Linked DNA regions of Homo sapiens. The protein of the gene in region 2 interacts with the protein of the main gene of each other region in a pairwise test. Each region holds a gene or a part of one and is shown on either strand. Other genes may lie near its edges.

What was found. Proteins that work in one complex are often made in the same cells at the same time.
Region 1: the proteins of MS4A13 (region 2) and CREB3L3 interact in binary tests that used the Homo sapiens proteins (3 or more experiments, as listed by UniProt).
Region 3: the proteins of MS4A13 (region 2) and VSIR interact in binary tests that used the Homo sapiens proteins (3 or more experiments, as listed by UniProt).
Region 4: the proteins of MS4A13 (region 2) and DAGLA interact in binary tests that used the Homo sapiens proteins (3 or more experiments, as listed by UniProt).

Annotation. Positions count from the first base shown.
Region 1 is NC_000019.10:4,156,631-4,160,130, reverse strand, and holds part of CREB3L3 (cyclic AMP-responsive element-binding protein 3-like protein 3), read right to left. Parts: intron 3,137-3,500; coding exon 2,836-3,136; intron 468-2,835; coding exon 349-467; intron 1-348. UniProt on the Homo sapiens protein: Transcription factor that may act during endoplasmic reticulum stress by activating unfolded protein response target genes. Activated in response to cAMP stimulation. In vitro, binds to the cAMP response element (CRE) and box-B element.
Region 2 is NC_000011.10:60,528,698-60,532,632, reverse strand, and holds part of MS4A13 (membrane-spanning 4-domains subfamily A member 13), read right to left. Parts: intron 3,269-3,935; coding exon 3,173-3,268; intron 1-3,172. UniProt on the Homo sapiens protein: May be involved in signal transduction as a component of a multimeric receptor complex.
Region 3 is NC_000010.11:71,753,021-71,756,520, forward strand, and holds part of VSIR (V-type immunoglobulin domain-containing suppressor of T-cell activation precursor), read right to left. Parts: intron 2,447-3,500; coding exon 2,339-2,446; intron 1-2,338.
Region 4 is NC_000011.10:61,721,891-61,725,390, forward strand, and holds part of DAGLA (diacylglycerol lipase-alpha), read left to right. Parts: intron 1-968; coding exon 969-1,070; intron 1,071-1,543; coding exon 1,544-1,682; intron 1,683-3,500. UniProt on the Homo sapiens protein: Serine hydrolase that hydrolyzes arachidonic acid-esterified diacylglycerols (DAGs) to produce the principal endocannabinoid, 2-arachidonoylglycerol (2-AG).

The DNA of each region.
Region 1 (3,500 bases), on a different chromosome or scaffold from region 2:
ATAGATGGGGTTTCACCATGTTGCCCAGGCTGGTCTCAAACTCCTGAGCTCAAGCGATCTGCCTGCCTTGGCCTCCCAAAGTGCTGGGATTACAGGTGTGAACCACCACACTCAGCCAGTTTTAGCTTTTAGTTGTTGTTGCTATTGTTACTACTAAGTACTACAGAGGAAGACACCCCAGCCCAGGCGACAGTGAGCCCAGGACTGGAATGGTCTCTAACTGTGGGCAAATTCCACGCCTTTCTGTGACTCAGTTTTCCAGTCTCTGAAACGGGGATATTTAGGCTCCTCGAACCCGAGCAGCCCTCCCAGCTCCAACGCCCCATGGGAGGGTGTGGGGGTGCTCACCAGGTCCCCACTGCTGCCCGAAAGGAGGAGGTCTTTCACGGTGAGATTGCATCGTGGGGACAGGTCCACCGGATCAGCCGGCTTCTCAGCACAGATCCTTCCTCCTGGGCTCCACATTTCTGACCAGGGCAGGTGGGGACGGAGACAGGGAGAGTGTCAGACGGGGGGAGTCCTGAGCTTCCAGCCTCTAACCGCCTCCTCCACCAAGTCTCCCATGATTAATCCCAACATTCATATGACTTCTGCCAGAGTTTGGAGTCCCCAAGGCCTGAGTTGAAGGGGGCAGCCCTCACTAGTGACTCGGTCTCCCCTCTGCTATAAGATGGGAACCCAGCCAGTCATGGTGGCTCACGCCTGTATTCCCAGCACTTTGGGAGGCCAAGGCAGGCGGATCATCTGAGGTTAGGAGTTCAAGACCAGCCTGGCCAACATGGTGAAATCCCATCTCTATTAAAAATACAAAAATTAGCCGGGCCTGGTGGCGTGCACCTGTAATCCCAGCTGCTCGGGAGGCTGAGGCAGGAGAATCACTTGAACCCGGGTGGTGGACGTTACAGTGAGCTGAGAATGTGGCACTGCCCTCCAGCCTGGGTGACACAGCGAGACTCCATCTCAAAAAAAAAAAAAAGATGGGGACCCAAATTCAACAGGGCTTGGTTCTGTCCGTCCCACAAGGCTGAGGAAGACACAGGACATTGTCAGGAGACACCGGCTGATTCAAAAGGGAGTGGCTGTTATCACACAGAATTACAGGCTAGATTTGCAGCCAGCCAGGCGTTATCTCACCCAAGGGGCAGGGACGAGGTCTGATTCACCTCTGGTTGTCCCCTCCTGGTAGCCGGCATGCAGTAGGCATGCTGTCCCAGCACACAAACTTTGGGTCAGGTAACCCTTGGTTCTAATCCTGGTTGGGCAGGGCTGTGTGACCTTGAGTAAGTGACTTCACCTCTCTGAGCCTCAGATTTTTTTTTTTTTTTTTTTTTGAGACGGAGTCTCGCTCTGTCGCCAGGCTGGAGAGCAGTGTGGCAATCTTGGCTCACCGCAACCTCCACCTCCCAGGTTCAAGAGATTCTCCTGCCTTAGCCTCCCGAGTAGCTGAGACTACAGGCGCCTGCCACCACACCCAGCTAATTTTTGTATTTTTAGTAGAGACAGAGGTTTCACCATGTTGGCCAGGATGGTCTCGATCTCTTGACCTCGTGATCCGCTCGCTTCGGCCTCCCAAAGTGCTGGGATTACAGGCGTGAACCACTGTGCCCAGCATTTTTTGTTTTTGGCTTTTTTTCGAGACAGAGTCTGGCTCTGTCAGCCAGGATGGAGTGCAGTGGCATGATCTCAGCTCACTGCAACCTCCGCCTCCCGGGTTCAGGTGATTCTCCTGCCTCAGGCTCCTGAGTAGCTGGGACTACAGGTGGCCCCCACCATGCCCGGCTAATTTTGTATTTTTAGTAGAGATGGGGTTTCACCATGTTGGCCAGGCTGGTCTTGAAGTCCTAACCTCAAGTGATCCGCCTGCCTCAGCCTCCCAAAGTGCTGGGATTACAGGCATGAGTCACCGCTCCGGGCCTGAGCCTCAGTTTTGTCAACTCTCCAATGGGACCAAGAAGAGCTCATAGCAAGGGTCAAGGGACAAAGGCCACCCAGAGGCCAAGTATCTCCAGCCAGGGCTCTGCCTGGCCCGCCGGGAATGCTTAATCAATAGAGTAAATCATTACTGATCTGCTGTTCCCCACGTCTAGGAGGAGCACCCTGGAACCTAGGACCTGGTAACCTCATGCACTTTTATTGAGCATCTACAGGCTGGGTGGAGCGGCTCACACCTGTAATCTCAGCACTTTGGGAGGCTGAGGTGGGCAGATCACCTGAGCTCAGGAGTTCAAGACCAGCCTGGCCAACATGGTGAAACCTCGTCTCTACTAAAAAATAAATATTAGCTGGGCATGGTGGCATATGCTTGTGATCCCAGCTACTCAGGAGGCTGAGGCAGGTGAATTGCTTGAACCTGGAAGGCAGAGGTTGCAGTGAGCCGAGATCGCGCCACTTTACTCCAGCCTGGGTGACAGAGTGAAACTCTGTCTCAAAAAATAAAAATAAATAAAAAATAAAAAAAAATCTACTAGGAACCAGGCACGGGGTACAGACACGTAGAAGGCAAGACCCTGACTTTGGGCTGTGCTTGTCAGCACCATGCCTGGTGCCTGAGCCACCTGCCGGGGTTGCATCCTAGCTCTGTGGTTTTAGCTCATTGCTCAACCTGACAGGACTGTTTCACGATCTGGAAAATGGGCTCCCAATAGCATCCACGTGAAAGCATGGAAACACCTAGCCAAGGGAGACACGTGTCCTGAGTTTGAGTCTGGGCCCAGCTCCAAATTGCTGTGTGACCTTGGACAAGATGCCAGCCCTCTCTGGGCCTCCATTTCCTCACTTACAGGAAGGGCCCTGGAACAAGGTGAGGGCGGTGGGCAGAGACACAGCAGGACTCACCCAGGTCTATGGTCACAGAGGCTTCAGGTACTTGGATCACTGGCCCTGGGGTTGTGGTGGAGCAAGAGTTGCCAGGATGATAGGAGAGGCAGGGCCCCTTGCCAGGCTGGGCAGGATGGCAGCCGGCGGGGGAGGTGGCTGGTCCGCTGCGTGGAGGGGTGTCCTGGGGGTCGGAGGGGAGGTCTTCGGAGATGCCACTATCACTGCCTTCGGGGGACCAGAGTGGGGAGCTGGGCAGTGAGTCTCCAGAGCCCAGGATGGAGCTGAGGAAGTCGTCAGAGTCGGGGTTTGGCAGGACCTGCTGGGGTGGACAGGGAGGGGTAGTAGGAATTAGGAAGTGCTCACTCTTTTTAGATTAGTGTGTGGCCCCAGGGAAACCAGTGACCCTCTTTGGGCCTTAGGTGTCCTTCCCTTCTCCAAGATGAGTTACTGCTTCTTCCTCCCGGGGCTGCTGAGGCTCAAACGCAGTAACATAGCATAAAAATCCCAGCCAGTGCCAGGTGCAGTGGCTCCTGCCTGTAATCCCAGCACTTTGGGAGGCCGAGGAGGGCGAATCACTTGAGGTCAGGAGTTCGAGATCCGCCTGGCCAACATGATGAAACCCCATTTCTTCTAAAAATACAAAAAGTAGCTGGGCGTGGTGGCGGGCATCTGTAGTCCCAGCT
Region 2 (3,935 bases):
GTTTACCTAAGCAAGCCTGCGCAATGGCGGGCGCCCCTCCCCCAACCTCGCTGCCACCTCGCAGTTTGATCTGAGACTGCTGTGCTAGCAATCAGCGAGATTCCGTGGGCGTAGGACCCTCTGAGCCAGGTGTGGGATATAGTCTCCTGGTGCGCCGTTTTTTGAGCCGGTCTGAAAAGCGCAATATTCGGGTGGGAGTGACCCGATTTTCCAGGTGCGTCCGTCACCCCTTTCTTTGACTCGGAAAGGGAACTCCCTGACCCCTTGAGCTTCCCAGGTGAGGCAATGCCTCGCCCTGCTTCGGCTCGCGCACGGTGCGTGCACACACTGGCCTGCGCCCACTGTCTGGCACTCCCTAGTGAGATGAACCTGGTACCTCAGATGGAAATGCAGAAATCACCCGTCTTCTGCGTCGCTCATGCTGGGAGCTGTAGACCGGAGCTGTTCCTATTCGGCCATCTTGGCTCCTCCAACCTACTTTACTAATTTTTGAAGCCTTTCTTTGTTAAGTCCAACATTTATTCTTCCCTTGCTCAAAGACGCTATGTCTATTAAGTGTTGTTTTGAACCCTATGGGTAACTATTATTATTTGCATACTTTTTGTTGTTGAAAACTGGACATTTTAGATAATATATGGTAGCAATTTTAGATTCTGATTGCCTCATTTCCCAGGAGTGGTGGTTAGCAATACCAGTGGTTAGTATCTTGGAATACTGGAAGTCCTAACTCCCAGTACCTTGGAATGTGACTGTATTTGGAAATAGGGTCTTTTAACTGGCAATGAAGTTATAATAAGGTAATTAGAATGAGCCCTAATCTAATATGACTGGTGAGCTTAGAAGAGACTAGGACACAGACAAATAAAGAGAAGACCATGTGAAAACACAGGGAGAAGACAGCCAAGTGAAAGCCAAAGAGAGATGCCTCAGAAGAAACTAACCCTGCCAACACCTTGATCTTGAACTTCTAGCCTCTGGAATTGTAAGAAAATAAGTTTGTTGTTTAAGCTACAGTCTGTGGTGCTTTGTTATAGAAGCTCTAGGAAAGTATTAGACACCTTGAGCCAGTAAGACTTCTACCCTTTCCCAATGAATCAGTGTAGCTTGAGCAATATATTCAAAGTTGAGGTTGCCCCAGCTTTTACTTTATTTTTGCAAGGCCTCTTGTTCAACCAAGGGCTCACTAGGACCTTCTCCTGTCTCCTTAGTATGTGTATAGCTTTGCACATATTTATATTCTTCCAGACTACAGGGGAAAAGTAGGAAGTTATCAAGGTCCACTGTGGCTGTCCTGTTCTTCAAATTTCTCTGTTGAGTTTCTGGTTGGTTGCTAGTAAATTTTTTGCCCCAACAAGTATTGTGATCTTAGTCAGGCTAGGAGTGACCTTGGCCTTATCTGCTTGTTTGTCACTGGGATTACTGTTGTTTTAATAACGCTTTTGGTCTTGGAACTTTCTGAGCTCTGTTCCAAATAAAACTAGTCATCTCAAGCAATGAGGCTGCTGGGCCTCACAGTCTGACCCACCAAGGTAAACTTCTGCGTAACGGAATCTGAGGGTGGGGTAGTATATTAGTCTGTTTTCACACTGCTATAACAAACTTGTCAAGACTGGGTAATTTATAAAGGAAAGAGGTTTAATTGACTTACAGTTCCACATGGCTTGGGAGACCTCAGGAAACTTACAATGATGGCGTAAGGCAAAGGGGAAGCAAGGACCTTTTTCACATGGCAGCAGGAGAAAGAAGACTGAGTGAATGAGGAACTTGCTAAACACTTATAAAACTATCAGATCTCATGAGAACTCACTCACTATCATGAGAATAGCATGGGGAAAACTGCCCCCATGATCCAGTTTCCTCCCATCAGGTTCCTCCCTCAAAACCTGGGGATTACAATTCAAGATGAGATTTGGGTGGGGACACAAAGCCTAACCATATCAGGTGGGAAGAGTGGGAACAGTCCCAAGCTAACATGCCACAGACATGCACTGTTCTTACTGAGGTCCAGTAGATTTTCTTAAATAAACACTTCTCAAGTTCTTGTATGCTTGGTCAACTTCCTGAATCTTTAGAAGGTTGTTCATTGACAATTTTGTTCAGTTTTATAATTTCATTTTTAGGGAGAGTTACCATGTCCTCAATCAGCCATTCTGGAAATGCAACTCATTCCCTCTCTTCAGAAATCCTTTTACCATGTAGTCTTATAGTTGTTTCTGTATTTCAATCAGTTGTTGATCATAGTAGTCTTCCTTGACCATCCTACATAAAATAATCTTGCCTTATCTCCTTAGTTTGCTTTATTTTACTTCATAACATTTTTCAGTTCTTGACATTTTATAATTTTATGTGTTTGTTTATTGCCTTTCTCCCCCAGTGGAATGCAAACTCCCTAATGGAGAGGCCATTGTTTTGTTAATCATTGCATCCTTAGTGCCTATGACAATGCCTAGCAAATAGCATGCTCTCCGTAAATATTTGAGAAAGAATGAATGAATGTTAGATATGTAGTCTTTTAAGCTTGTGAGAAAATAATCATTCTCATAAACTTTTGTGAGTTGTTATAGCATTTTGGGATGTTGTTACACTTGATCCTGCAATGACATTTCTAGGAATCAAACACCTAAAGAATTAGTGGTCCTGTATGCAAAAATATTTATACTCAAATGTTCACTGCATCATTGTTTATAATTTAGAAAAAACTGGAAACCAAGCTACATATGCAGTAATTAGGGAATGCTAAATACTAAGAAAAACAATGAAGGCAATAAAAGGCATTATTTAGATATGTTTTGTAATGGAAAGATATTTCTAATCATTGCAAAAAATGAATGTGACAAAATAATGTGAATATAATACATACAATTAGTAAAGAGAATGTGTGTGTATTCGTCTTTTTTTGTATAGAATTGGATGTGTGGATACGATGAGAACTATATTAAAGAAAAATCACTTTTTACTCTATATGCTTTTTGCTTTTAAATGTAGTTTCATGTATTACTGTTATAATTTTATGCTATTTATAAAATAACAAAAATAAAAAATAAAGGCAATATCACACATTCCATTTATATTAGTTCTAAATATTTTGTATCAGTGCACTTCATCTTCTCATAGAGTGTAGTTACTAGAAATCAACATCTTTTGATTTGCCAGAGAGTGGGTAAACACTTACCAAATTGGAACAGCTGTATATTGAGTGTGTAAGTGCAATAGAAAATTCCAAACCGTAGAAGAACAGTAAAATACGTGATACTTCCCTCCCAAGTTTCTATAACCAAAAAACAGGGAGAAATCTTAATGCTATTATCTTTAGTGAGTGCAAACATGATCATGGAAGGAGCTACTGGTATGAGAGTCAAAAAAAAAAAAAAAAAAAAGGAAGGAAAATAAGAACAGATAAACCTTTCACCATTTGATTTCCTTAGACATTTCTACTCCTTTGCCCTCTGCTACACTTTCCCTAGCTTTCAGTTCCTCAATTCAGCATCTGTGGCTTCTGCATTTGATCTCCATTGCTTAGCATTCTTGTCTCACTTCTGACAGCTTTTACAGAGTCGCTGGCACAGCTCACTATCTAAACTCTCCAGTTAGTAAGATTTGACTTTCCTGTCTCTAATGATAAGATGGCCACCAACAGATTTATCAAGCAATCCTTTTCTATTAAAACAGCTATTATTAATCACAACCCTTCTTAAATTTACATACATGGTGATAAAACTCTCACATATATATTGCTCTAATATCATTTAAAATGATTAATACATTCAAAAAGAGTTCAAAGAACATTTAACTTGGAAGCATAAGGTGATTGTGACTGCTGGGATAAATAAAACAGATTCCCTTCTGTTGCTATCAGAAAGATATTTTCAACTACAAATCCGATTGGTTAGTTATGTGAATAATATTGGTACTCATCCTGAAAATGTGGGTTTTGT
Region 3 (3,500 bases), on a different chromosome or scaffold from region 2:
AGAAGCTGGTCATGGAAGGGAAGGCTTCCCCATACAACATCCCTGCCCCTGCTGGCAGATGCCCTGCAGGGAACAGGAGCGAGCCCAGGAGGGCCCTGCACAGCTCCGGACTCCATTTCTTTTCACATGGGTGCTGTCCAGCAAGCGATCTGCGTGTCTGTCCAGCAGATGGGGCCTCCATGAGGGGCCCATTTTGACGACTGATAAATGAAACTCTATCTGCATTTTCCAGGAGTGTAAGAACGCTATCTGCCATCAGGAGACCAAAGGCAGCCAGCGCTTTCTCCTATGGCTTGACTTACACAGTGTCAGACCTTCAGGATTTAAGTATCGAGCAAAGGTCAACTCTTGAATTTGCTAACTGGTGTCTCTTGTTTGAACATTTGCCAGGTTCTGGTCTTTAGCCATGACTTACTGGGTGGGAGTGTTTAAGGTCAGTTCCTAATTAGAGGGCTCCTGGTCCTCTCTGTCCTATCCCCTACATTGCCTAATAGGGTGGCATTCTAGGGGACATCTCTCAGGGAAACCTTACAAGGTGCAAGTCCCCGATCACTTCCCAGCCACTTCACTCACTTTCTGCTTCTCATCCAAGTTGCTGCCGCTTGCCTCAGCCTTGGGACACCCCACCCCCCAAACTGGCCACCAATTAGATGCAGTGACCCCAACTTCCCTCTTTCATGCAGCACCCCATGTCCTCCCACAGATGCTTCTCGTTTTAAGGAGATTTACTGCTGATTACGATGGGGAAACAGATGGTGGGGGAGGGGCACAACAACAGAACAAACACAGGGAAGTTACCCAAAAGTTCCTGAAATCTATTCAAACCATGGCTATTGCTTACAGCCGACTCATGGGTCAGGCTTCGTGCAGGTGCACACGGGTATTCCCTCATCTCATCCTCTGTGCCACCCTTTGGGGTGAGGGTTGTTGGTCCCATTTTAGAGCTGGGGAAACTGAGGCTCAGTCCAAAGCAGGATGGAAATCCACACCTGTTGGCCTCTCCAGCAAACTGCCGTCCTCAAGGCTCCCAGCCCTTTCCTTTTCTTTTTTTCCTGAGAGTGCCTCATTCCTGAGCAGGCTCTCTGGGCCAGCCTTCCACCAGGGAGGGCACAGCAACACCTGCTCCCCCTGCCCTGCTGCCCAGCGTTGCTCTTCTGTTCCAAGCCCTTTACCTGCCCCCACCCACCCCCAGCCATGGGTATTCCTGCAGGTAGGTTGTGGTGTGTTCTAGGAGAGGAATAGGGGAGTTCTGAAAGCAAGGGTGAGGTGGCCACAGCCCCCGAGTGACCCACTATGGGGCTTCACGTGGGGGCCCCCGGGAATGAGGGGAGGGAGGGATGACAAGTTGTTAAGGGCCGGCCACAGGAAATAAGTTGCGAGCCAAAAGCCACCTGGCACCAGAGCAATCCTTTCTCAGTTACCTCTGTAGCCAGGCAGACGGGAAGAGGCCAGGGAGGGGAGGCAAGGGTAAAAAACTCCCTAGCCCCTTCTTGGAGGACTCAGACTAACCAAGACTCAAGGGCAGGGTCAGGAACTAGGCAAGGGGCACTGTCACCTGGCCAGGGTGGGAGGTGAAAGATGTTTGTGCCCATGACTTAAAGCCCAGCCCCACCACTTATTTGCTGTGTGGTTCCTTAGGCAAGTTACTTAACCCCTCTGTGCCTCCGTTTGCCCATCAGTAAAATGGGGACAATGGTAGGACCAAATTCTTGGACTTGCAATGAGGAGTAAGTGAGAGCATTTTTATTATATGGTGGACTTCTATTCCCTGGAAAGAGCATGCGTTGAAAGCTCTGAGATTGAGTCCTAGCTCTGCCACTTACTAAGTTACGTAACATTCAGTCAGTTATGTAACCCCACTGATCTTAGCCTTCTCATCTGGAAAAAGAAAGGGTTGAGCTAAGTTGTCTGTAAGACCCCTTCCACTTCTGATATTCCAAAGATCATTTTTTGTCCCAACAATTGCTACTAATTACAAAACAAGCACGCCCATACCTTAAACAGGTCCCCCAAGGATCTCTGAGTGGCAGCAACTTGCTTTTATAAAGCAACTTGAGCTACTGCATATGATCATTCATTCAGAAGACATGTATTGAGTGCCGAGCCAGCACTGCCTGGGAGCCAAAGGGGCTGGTGGGCACTTGGCCCCCGGAAATGGCATGCCTCCTTTCTCTCGGCCATTTCGCCCAGCTCCTGGCGGGAAGTGCAGCTGCTCCCAACTCTCAAATGAAAAGGAATTGTGCCTGCATCGTGCCTTTGCGAATCCCAGGGGCTGAACTGGGGGCTGGAGCAGGTCACTCGCACCGTCCACCCACCCCAGGCAGGGAGGAATACTCACGGCGGTTGGAGGCTGCCTGCCTTTGCTTGTAGACCAGGAGCAGGATGAGGGGGAGGCAGAGGATTCCTACGATGCAGGCACCCGTAGCCAGGGCTGCAGCCGTGATGTCTGAAAGGGCAGAGAGGTAGCCAAGGTGAAGCCCCATTCCCATTGCTCCTCCTGAGCATAAACTGAGGCTCAGAGAGGGAAGGCCAGGAAGCAGGAGACCCGCCTTTCCCCAGAGTCCCACAGCTAGACCCCCAGCAACCTACAGAGGCATGGAAGATAAGGCGGTTCTCCTTTCAAAGAGAGCCCTGTGCCTGCCGCCCTATGCCCCTGGAGCACTCAGAAACAAGACCTGTCACCTACAGCTCAGGCAGCTCCAGGCAAGAGAGGGAACAGAGTCCTCATCCCAGCCCACAAGGTACAGCTGGAACACCCTTGGCTACAGGTTGTTCTCTGAAAAGGGAGAGCAGGGCCTTCGCAGACCCCATGCCACAGAGCTCAAGGTCAAAAGAAGCCTAAGTGATGAAAGTTTTGAAAATAGACAGTGGTGACGGTTGCACATTGTGAATGTAATTAATGCCACCAAACTGTAGGCTTAAAATGGTTGAAATGGCAAATTTTACATTATATATGTTTTATCATAATAGATAAAAAGCCCCAACTCATCCCAGAGACTCCTTAGCTCTGGGATGGGGCCTCTAGAACCCCTTGATCTCACCACACAAGTCACAGGAGAAACACCCGGGGTGAGAACTAGAAAAACGTGAATCCTTGTACAATGTTTTTCAATTTTAAACTTATTAAACTACCAAAAAAAGTACAAGTTTAAAAAATATTCGAATCTCCTCCTCCCCTTGTACCAAGACCCCCTCTGAAGAGATCATCCCTGTGTGCCGGTTTTTGTGTTATGGTCCTAGTTATATTCCCTGCAAATACAGCAGACGCAGCATCATATGACAATGCTTTTCCCACTGAGCACAGCTTGGACATCTCTCTGTCTCCCCTGCCTCATTCTGCTTAGAGTTTTATCACATGGCTCCCACTAAATTTATTGAAGCAGTCCCCTGTTGGTAGACATGTTGTTTCCATTTTCAGCATAACTAATAATGTAGCAATGAACTTGTGCACGCAGCCTGGCTCACTCAGCAAGGAAATCTGTAGTAAATTCCTAGCGGTC
Region 4 (3,500 bases), 1.2 Mb from region 2:
TTGAACCCACGCTGTCTGGCTCCAAAGTCTGGTCTCTGAGCTGCCACACTGCTGCCCGTGCAGCTGGGGCTTTCCAGGCTGCCCCCATGAGGCCAGCAGATCTCCTTCTCAGCCACCACTCCATACCCCTCCCCTCCAGTCTCAGCCCCTGAGGGGCCTGAGCTGGATGCAGACCAGCTGCTGGGCCCTTCCTCTCTCCTCCATCAGGTTCCAGAGGCCTCTTGCTGGGAAATAGTTTCCATGAAGTGAACACGCTCTCATCTAATTTTTGCACAGTCCTATGACATAAATGTTGTCACTCCCATTTTACAGATGAGGAAATGGAGGCTCAGAGAGATTAGGAAACTTGCCTAAGATGTGTCTGATTCCACAGTTCAGACATGATTCTGAGATCCTGATAGAATGAGGAAATGGGCCAGGCGCGGTGGCTCATGCCTGTAATCCCAGCACTTTGGGAGGCCGAGGCGGGTGGACCACTTGAGGTCAGGAGTTCAAGACCAGCCTGGCCAACATGACGAAACCCCGTCTCTACTAAAAATACAAAAATTAGCTGGGCCTGGTGGTGGGTGCGTGTAATCCCATCTACCCTAGGGACTGAAGCAGGAGAATCTCTTGAACCCAGGAGGCAGAGGTTGCAGTGAGTCAAGATCACACCATTGCACTCCAGCCTGGACAACAAGAGCAAAACTCCATCAGGGATGCCCCGGGGACTTGAGAGCACAGAAGCTAGGAGAGGTGGTGGGCACATTGCAAGCGGTCATTCAGGGGCCAACAGGACCAAATGGTGACAGGACGGGCTTGGGGCCTGGGAGGCGGGGGGTGGGGGGTCTGCTAATGGCCCGCTGCCTCTGCCTTTGCTACTGAGCTGGCTGAAAGCCCAGCGATAGGAAAGGCCAGGCCGGGGTTCTAGGCCCTTCCCTGGCATGCAAGTGGCAGCCATCCTTCAGCCAGGCCTGCTCTCCTTGCAGCCATCCTGGTGATCGAGTTCATCTACGCCATCGTGGGCATCGTCTGGCTCACTCAGTACTACACCTCCTGCAACGACCTCACTGCCAAGAATGTCACCCTCGGTACGTCTGGGTGAGGCCTGCTGGAGCCTCAGCAGCCCCGGGGGCACAGGGGACGAGATCAGTTTAGAGAGGAAGAAGCTTGGGCATTGCCAGAGGGCAGTGCCTTCTGTGGGGGCACCAGCAGGTTGGCTGGGCGAGACTGCTTCCCTCACCCTTGAGGCCTGCCAGCTACCTGGTCTGGGGTGGGCTGCAGCAGGCACAGAGCTGCTCAGGTCAAGCCGAGGCTCCTCAGCACCTCCTTGGAAACCCACAGAGCTGCCTGCTCTGAGCCAAGAGTGGCCCTTGGGGTTGTGGGTGGGCAATAGGGTGGCCACGTATGTGGCCAGAGACTGGGACCAGGGGCTTTGGAGCCTGGCTTTTGTCCCCAGAAGCATTTGGGGTTAGGGAGGCTCCAATGTCCCTTTCTTCAGAGCGGGTGAGCCAGAGAGGTGTCCCCAGCGCCCCTACCTAATGCCTCCCACTGCTGCCCGCAGGAATGGTTGTCTGCAACTGGGTAGTCATCCTCAGTGTGTGCATCACTGTCCTCTGCGTCTTCGACCCCACGGGCCGCACCTTTGTCAAGCTGAGAGCCACCAAGAGGAGGCAGCGTAACCTGCGGACCTACAACCTGCGGTCAGTCAGCGGGCTGGGTGGGCAGTCCCAGGGTGGGCTTTGCTGTCTGGTGAGCAGAGGTCTCCATTCTTCAGAAGGCTACCCCAGGCCTCCCAGACTGCATGCCAACCTCGTGTGAGCCGTGGGCATTAGTCAAAGGGCTTAACTGCTCCCTGCCTCAGTTTCCTTGTCTATAAAGTGGGAATAATAACAATTCTTGTCTCATGTTGTTGTGAGATTTAACTGAGCTAATACCTGCAGAGTGACTAACACAGTGCTCACACTGGGTAAGTGCTCGGTTAATAGTAGTTGTTGTCATCATTGTCCACTGCTGATAATAACAATGGTAATAACAGTGAAGCCAAGCATTGCGTGTAGTAAGTTACAAGTCCACCACACAGCTGTCAACTTCCCCATAATATGGGTGGAGAAACTGAGGTACAGAGAGATGATGGGACTTGCCTGAGGTTACACAGCTAGAAAATGGTAAGGCTGGGAACTAGCCCAGGCAGTCTGGCCTTAGAGTCCTCGCTTAACTAGCTATTAAATTAGGCTAGGCTGCCTCTAGGATTCAGAGATTGGGAGAGGCAAGTCAAGGAAAGCTTCCTAGAGGGGGTGAGTTTTGCATGATGTTTTAAAGATGGGGGAAAGTGTGCCATGGCAGACAAAATGAGGGAGGGCATCCAGGTAGTGTCACAATAATTTGTTTGTTGAAAGAAAAAGAGAGGGGCTTCCAGGGTGGGTCCCAGTACCTCCTGTTAATGGGGCTTCTACAGTGCATTATGTAAGGAGCTCCCCATGCCAAGCCCTTTACGCAATTCATCCATTTAATCCCTTTGTGAACCCCGGCATGGTTGTGAGATCCATTCTACAGATGAGGAATCCAAGTCCCAGAGAGGGCAGGTCACCTGCCGTGGGTCTTGCTGCTGGGGTGCAGAACTGGCACCACACCTGCAGCCCAGAGCAGCTGGCTCAAGCACCTGGGGAGCAGGCTGTCTGGACCCCCGCTGCCCGGCAGGAATTCTCACCGTCCCACCCTCCTGCACTGCTGTGTTCGGCTCCCCGTGGACCTTCCACGTCAGCTCAGCACTGCAGCCAGAGCCACACCCGTGCCTGCTGTGGCCACGTCCCAGCCCAAAATGTCAGGTCTGGGAGCCAAGGCCCCAAAGCCCATATTCCCTCCCAGCCCAGCTGGCCACCACCACCCATCCCACAGTGCTCTGGGAACCCTGCTTGGCCAGCACACTGTCCCTTCATGCCCCAGAAGGTGGGACATTGGTTTAGGATGTACAGCTGTCCAAGTCCCTAAGAGCCAGCAGGTCCCCAGAGTAGCAATTCCCTGCACCCTTCCCTACCTGCCTCCCGTAGCCCTGGAAGACCCTGTTGCCCTCCTTCTCCTTGTGGCCATTTGCCTTATGAAGCCAGGGTTGGAGAGCGGGAAGCGGTCCTTAGACACACGGAGGAGCCAAGAGGCTCAAAAAGGGCCTGGCCTGTCACTACAGATTGATGTTAAGTGCCTTGAATGCATATGAGGGCCACCCTTGCCTTCCTCTCCTGACCACCCAGCATCAGGCTTTTAAGGGGCCGCACATGGCACAAAAGCAAGCTAGCCCCTTCTTGCTCGGTTTGGAGGTCTGCACTTTTAATGTTGGATCTGTTATCTTTATGCTCAACACACTGACTGCAGACATCCAGCCTAGGAGGAACCTCTGTGAATAACTGGCCCATTGCTCTGCCTTTGGGTACAGACTCCTGGAGACCCTGATTCTCCATCTGAGCAGCCAGACCCACTGGGGATGGGGTTGGGGGGTGAGAATAGACAAGGGCAACCATGTGGGT